Linked DNA regions of Homo sapiens. The protein of the gene in region 1 interacts with the protein of each later gene in a biochemical or structural test. Each region holds a gene or a part of one and is shown on either strand. Other genes may lie near its edges. The genes, in order: SFRP2 and PPP1CC.

What was found.
Region 2: the proteins of SFRP2 (region 1) and PPP1CC form a complex in vitro, tested with the Homo sapiens proteins (one study listed by BioGRID).

The regions. Positions count from the first base shown.
Region 1 is NC_000004.12:153,779,993-153,783,315, reverse strand, and holds the end of SFRP2 (secreted frizzled-related protein 2 precursor), read left to right. Parts: intron 1-1,560; coding exon 1,561-1,865; 3' UTR 1,866-2,725; downstream 2,726-3,323. UniProt on the Homo sapiens protein: Soluble frizzled-related proteins (sFRPS) function as modulators of Wnt signaling through direct interaction with Wnts. They have a role in regulating cell growth and differentiation in specific cell types.
Region 2 is NC_000012.12:110,722,536-110,726,217, forward strand, and holds part of PPP1CC (serine/threonine-protein phosphatase PP1-gamma catalytic subunit), read right to left. Parts: intron 2,230-3,682; coding exon 2,125-2,229; intron 161-2,124; coding exon 1-160. UniProt on the Homo sapiens protein: Protein phosphatase that associates with over 200 regulatory proteins to form highly specific holoenzymes which dephosphorylate hundreds of biological targets.

The DNA.
Region 1 (3,323 bases):
ATATATGCCCTACCTGTACTACAGACAAGGCTCCCAGGTAAAGTGTAATCAGTCCATTTCTCCCACCATGGTGAGGTCTATCCAACACCCTACTCCCAATGCAGAGGACACAAAAGCATGAAACATTTCCACAAGTATGGCTTATTCCACGACTTGAGTCTCAAAAACTGAGAATTCAGTACCACAGTTCAGATGCATATCATACCAGACAAAACCATGGTTGGCCAAGTCATAGCATTTTTGATTTACCTGCTAGAGATTCTATAATTTCCTGGTTGACTAGAAAGCCATACTCAGTCAAATTCCCATTCTGATATTTAAAAAAAAAAAAAAGAAAATCTCAAAAACAGTTGTACGCAACACAGAAAAATCTTCCTCTATTACTAATTTAAACATAGATTAAACTCCATCAAAGTCAGGAAGTCATACTTACACATCATCTATACAGAATAGCTGTCAGGGGCACACAGGGTCTTAGGACACATTGCAGCTGGGCAAGTTTATGCTGCAACCACTACAAAAACATGGACATTGCCTCAAGACACCACAGTGGTATTACAGGAGGAGGTTTGGCAACTGGAGTTCTAGCAAACAACCTAAACTGGGTGACCTCATGCAAGTCACTAAACTTCTCTGGATTTAAGATTCTTTGTGTATTAACAAGCAATTTTAATGGGATGATCCCTTCTAACCTTAAAATTCTATTCTTTTCCTGCTTTCATGGAGTCTTGAAATTTAATTCCAGCATACACGTTTGTAGGGCTTTCTTTCCCAGAGCATACTGTTCATGACTATAAAACGTGTCCTTTATAGTAAACCACTTACTTTTGGTCTTCGCATTCTAACGAGTCTACATATACATTTTGGAAACAGTACATATATGATCCGTAAACGCCTTGGCCTTGGACTGGCAAATGAGAGCATATAAGGATGAGGTCTTCAGAAAAACACTTTTATGACTAACCACGTTGTGCTGTTAAAAAGAGACTTGCATATTGTTTCTCCTGCTTTACCAAATCAAATGCAGCTGTAAGATCAATTCTCCTTCCCTGTAATCTGATCTTTAGAAAACAATGATTGCGTGACACAGTTTCCTTACAGGTTTGTCCAAAAACCTCTTGCATAATAAATTGAGTTTAAACTTTACGGCCACAGAGGGATCATATTTCACCTAAAAGTCAGGCATTTCTTTTCATGCTTAAGTTTCCAACAGAGGAAGTCATTTGTTGGAGAGAGCACACACCACATGCAACTTTCTTACAAACACAAGGGTGAGTGAGGAAAGGAGAAGAAAAGTTAATTGAGTCCCGCAAAGAGAGAGTTTTGAAAAAATGGCTGATTGGAAACCAAGTGCCTGGCAAATGCTTTGAGGCTTTAGCAGTGGAGCCACCTGCTGCCCCTAGCTCCCAACCCCCGATCTGCAGCCTCTGAGGGTCCCATTAGCTCTAGGAAGCCTCTCTTTCCTCATCCAGGCCAAGTCACACGAGTTGGCAGAATGGGGGGAGGTATACTGTATTCCCTCATTATAACTGGCATGACTCTTTCTGCCCTCCCTCATAGCACTGAAAATAAAAGTGAAGGAGATAACCTACATCAACCGAGATACCAAAATCATCCTGGAGACCAAGAGCAAGACCATTTACAAGCTGAACGGTGTGTCCGAAAGGGACCTGAAGAAATCGGTGCTGTGGCTCAAAGACAGCTTGCAGTGCACCTGTGAGGAGATGAACGACATCAACGCGCCCTATCTGGTCATGGGACAGAAACAGGGTGGGGAGCTGGTGATCACCTCGGTGAAGCGGTGGCAGAAGGGGCAGAGAGAGTTCAAGCGCATCTCCCGCAGCATCCGCAAGCTGCAGTGCTAGTCCCGGCATCCTGATGGCTCCGACAGGCCTGCTCCAGAGCACGGCTGACCATTTCTGCTCCGGGATCTCAGCTCCCGTTCCCCAAGCACACTCCTAGCTGCTCCAGTCTCAGCCTGGGCAGCTTCCCCCTGCCTTTTGCACGTTTGCATCCCCAGCATTTCCTGAGTTATAAGGCCACAGGAGTGGATAGCTGTTTTCACCTAAAGGAAAAGCCCACCCGAATCTTGTAGAAATATTCAAACTAATAAAATCATGAATATTTTTATGAAGTTTAAAAATAGCTCACTTTAAAGCTAGTTTTGAATAGGTGCAACTGTGACTTGGGTCTGGTTGGTTGTTGTTTGTTGTTTTGAGTCAGCTGATTTTCACTTCCCACTGAGGTTGTCATAACATGCAAATTGCTTCAATTTTCTCTGTGGCCCAAACTTGTGGGTCACAAACCCTGTTGAGATAAAGCTGGCTGTTATCTCAACATCTTCATCAGCTCCAGACTGAGACTCAGTGTCTAAGTCTTACAACAATTCATCATTTTATACCTTCAATGGGAACTTAAACTGTTACATGTATCACATTCCAGCTACAATACTTCCATTTATTAGAAGCACATTAACCATTTCTATAGCATGATTTCTTCAAGTAAAAGGCAAAAGATATAAATTTTATAATTGACTTGAGTACTTTAAGCCTTGTTTAAAACATTTCTTACTTAACTTTTGCAAATTAAACCCATTGTAGCTTACCTGTAATATACATAGTAGTTTACCTTTAAAAGTTGTAAAAATATTGCTTTAACCAACACTGTAAATATTTCAGATAAACATTATATTCTTGTATATAAACTTTACATCCTGTTTTACCTATTCTTTGTCTTCTGTCTTGTCTTCTTAGTAAAAGGAACTGGGAATGGAGCTATGTATGGGTGGTCACTTCCTTCCATGAGCCCAGCCCTCCAGCAGTTTAAAGTGATCTACTTCTCAAGTGACTCAGAAAGTGTCTCCCCCTCCACCACCATGCCCCACATCTCACAGATTTCACCACTTTCACCCTGTGGAAGCAGCGACTTGCAGCCTCTAGAAAGGGGTTGCCTTCTTTTGACCCTTCTGAGCAGTCCAGCTGCAGCTATGTGGAAACATTACCCTAAACTTAAGGTTTATGAGCTTTACAGTTGTGCTTTTCATTTCCTGAGATTTTTCATACCGAAAAAGAATCACCACTGCAAAAATGTTAATTCCTTCCCCGACTCAAATCTAACCCTCAGATAGAGAGAGCCATGATTTGGAGAGTATCCACTGGAATGCAAGGAGGAGGAAGGGGATGGTGAAAACTTGAACTAGGGTAAAAAAGGAGAGACAGACATCTGTCCATTAAATGTCTCTTAGTCCTTTCCAACTGCTATAACAAAATACCATATACTGGGTAGTTTATAAACAACAGAAATTTACTTCTGACAGTTCCAGA
Region 2 (3,682 bases), on another chromosome or scaffold:
CCAAATGTGAAGGACACTCCTCTGTCATTTTCACCCCAGCCTAAGACATCTTTATCGGGGTCAGACCACAAAAGATCACAAAGAAGACCTTGATCTGGTACATCAGTTGGTCGCATAATTCGCCGAATCTGCTCCATAGATTGAAGATCTGGTGATAAACCTATTCAATGAGGAAAAAAAAAAAATGAAGAAAGCAGAACTTTTAAAAGGATACTACCCCTTCAAAAGTTCCATTTGTCTACAGAGAAATTCAATAATCCTGACATAAAAACTGAAATCTATGATTATATTTTATTTACTTTTGGTTAAAAGAAAAAAACACAGAAAAAGGACAACTGGATACACACTAGAATTACATGCAGTAATGCATGGGGTGCAGTAGGTTTAAACAGTACATGGAAACAATTATATTATACAGAACACTGTAAAATAAAATCCAGTGATTTAAAAAACTCTTCTATGGGCTTCCCCCAGTTGATGACAATAATGAGCGATGTTATGATTGATGGCTTATAATGACTGAGCTGAGAAGATAAGGATGCTCAGTGTGAGGTAGTTCTCTAGGAAACCTGCACTGTTCACAGACCATTAAAATCTACAAGAGCTTATTGTATCGAGTTACAATATGGGATGCATATTGTAAGAGTTAAAAACCATGTATCCAACTCTACCAAAACCTAAGTACAGAAGCACAGAGATAAAAGACATTATGCAGGCTTTTTGATGGCTAAAATCTACAAGAGCTTATTGTATCGAGTTACAATATGGGATGCATATTGTAAGAGTTAAAAACCATGTATCCAACTCTACCAAAACCTAAGTACAGAAGCACAGAGATAAAAGACATTATGCAGGCTTTTTGATGGCTGATTAATTTCAGACCATACAGGAAAAGAAATTCTCTTTGCAATTACTATTTTAATTACATTATAGAAAGCACAACCACTGAGCAAAGCAAAACAGCTTATAACATATATATGTATATATTTTCAGAGATAGGGTCTTGCTCTGTTGCCTAGGCTGGAGTGCAGTGGTGCGATCATAGCTCACTGCAGCCTTAAACCCCTGGGTTCAAGCGATCCTCCCGCCTCAGCCTCCCAAATAGCTACGGCTACAGGTGTGCACCATTACACCTGGCTAACTTTTACAACTTTTTCTAATGACAGGGGTCTCGATATGTTATAGGCTGTTCTCATATTCATGGCATCAAGCAATCCTCCTGGCTTGGCCTCTCCAAAGTGCTGGAATTACAGATGCGAGCCACTATGCCTGGCCAAAATAACTTTTAAAATCCAAGTCAGAGAAAGTTCTGAGAGGATAAAAAACAATCAAGGGAAAATCTACTCACATCTTGAGTGTTCTAGAGGATCTCTGGCACAACAAATTACACATTGTTCATTTTATAGTTAAAAACACTCTTCTGCCGGGCGTGGTGGCTCAAGTCTGTAATCCCAGCACTTTGGGAGGCCGAGGCGGGCAGATCACGAGGTCAGGAGATTGAGACCATCCTGGCTAACACGGTGAAGCCCCGTCTCTACTAAAAATACAAAAAATTAGCCAAGCGTGGTGGCGGGTGGCTGCAGTCCCAGCTACTCAGGAGGCTGAGGCAGGAGAATGGCGTGAACCTGGGAGGCAGAGCTTGCAGTGAGCCGAGATGGTGCCACTGCGCTCCAGCCTGGGTGAGAGAGCGAGACTCTGTCTCAAAAAACAAAAACAAAAACAAAAAAAACCAAAAACTTTTCTAAGCCGGGCACAGTGGCTTACACCTGTAACCCAGCACTTTGGAAGTCCGAGGCAGGAGGACTGCTTGAGCCCAGGAATTTGTGACCAGACTGGGCAACGTGGTGAGAACTCATCCTTACAAAAAATAAAATAAAAATAAAAATTTTCTGCTCTATTTTCAAACCTAGCTTACAGAGTCTAGAATTCCCTGTAATAAATCAATTCCTTAAGATTTTTATCCAAATGATCCTGGCTGTATCAGAGTGAAAGTGCAATGCAACACATCAACAAAGGAGAGTGTTCTGTCAGAGAAAGTCATCCCAATGATAACTCACAAATGTTAAAGTGTTCACCCTTTGGAAGGGATCAAAACCTATTTGGAACAAAAATCAGCCCACCTACCTCCATGACAGCAGAATATCTTCTCATCCACGATGGCTGCTATCGGTAAACAGTTAAAACAGTCTGTGAAAGTTTTCCATAGTTTAATGTTGTATCTTCTTTTACCTGTGATTAAAAAGAGAGTATTACATTAAAAAGAGAGTATTACTGTTCCGTAGGCTCATTCTCTCAGGATTAACTTCCCCCAAAGCAAGATTCTGGGTGCCTTTTAAGCAAATGAAACTATGTTTTTATTAAGAATCTTAATAAAACCATCTTATTTTAAGGCTCTTTTAAAATAAGAGCTGGGCGTGGTGGGTCAGACCTGTAATCCCAGCACTTCGGGAGGCTGAGGTAGGAGGATGGCTTGAGCCCAGGAGTTCAAGACCATCTTGGGCAACATAGTGAGACCCCATCTCTTTAAAGAAAGACTCTCCTAGAGGGAAGGGGTTTAGGAGAGACACATATCTGATCTAAAAGCAATGACTTACATTTTCACATGAAATCTTTTTAAATTCCACAGAAGCATGAAACCAGAATTCCAGATTTGATAATGATTAAGGACTGCCATCAAATCCCAGGAATTATCTGGGAGCATCAATTCTGTTTGAAATTGTCTGCTCTGTCCAATCTCACCGCAGCTAGTCCCCTACTTCTGAATTCAATTACGAACTTACACATGTGGCGTTATGACCTTCCTTCTGAGGAAACCTGAGAGTTAGCACCCATCCCCCATATATGCCCCTCAATAACCTACTGACACCAGAGGATCCCCAGCCCTCAGTACTCTAGCAGGAGGCACAATGATCACACGGCAGTGGCTGCCTCTCACAGGCACTACAGGGCATTTGTTTCCAACACTGCACAGACTCCACATGCTCCCACAGGCCTGATGTCACAGGATGGTCATGTTCCCTCAACAGCACAGGCATCCACACATTCTGGAGTCAGAGTGCAGTTCTGACAGAAATATGCCTCTATGCACTGTTTCTACAGGAAACTGATGTTCTGAGTTTAAAACCTAGTCACATACCTTGCAAGAACAAATTTCTCTGGATTGGTTGAGGATTGTCCAATTGTCCAGATGCCTTTGTTTCCTGTACTTACTATACTAAGCACAATCTTTAAAAACCAGGAGTTTGGCCAGGCGCGGTGGCTCACACCTGTAATCCCAGCACTTTGGGAGGCCGAGGCGGGCAGACCATCTGAGGTTGGGAGTTTGAGACCAGCCTGACCAACATGAAGAAATCCCGTCTCTACTAAAAATATAAAAATTAGCTGGGCGTGGTGGCGCATGCCTGTAATCCCAGCTACTTGGGAGGCTAAGGCAGAAGAGTCACTTGAACCTGGGAGGCGGAGGTTGCGGTGAGCCTTGATTGTGCCATTGCACTCCGGCTTGGGCAACAAGAGCGAAACTCCGTCTCAAAAAACAAAACAAAACAAACAAAACAAACCAAGAGTTTGTCCTTAGTCTCTTTTCCTGGGGAATACAGGGACATCTAAAGGTTTAAACCTATACCTCTCCTTTGAGAGTTAGAGCCAGCCCAAGCAACTGACCTGAACCACACCTCCCACCCTG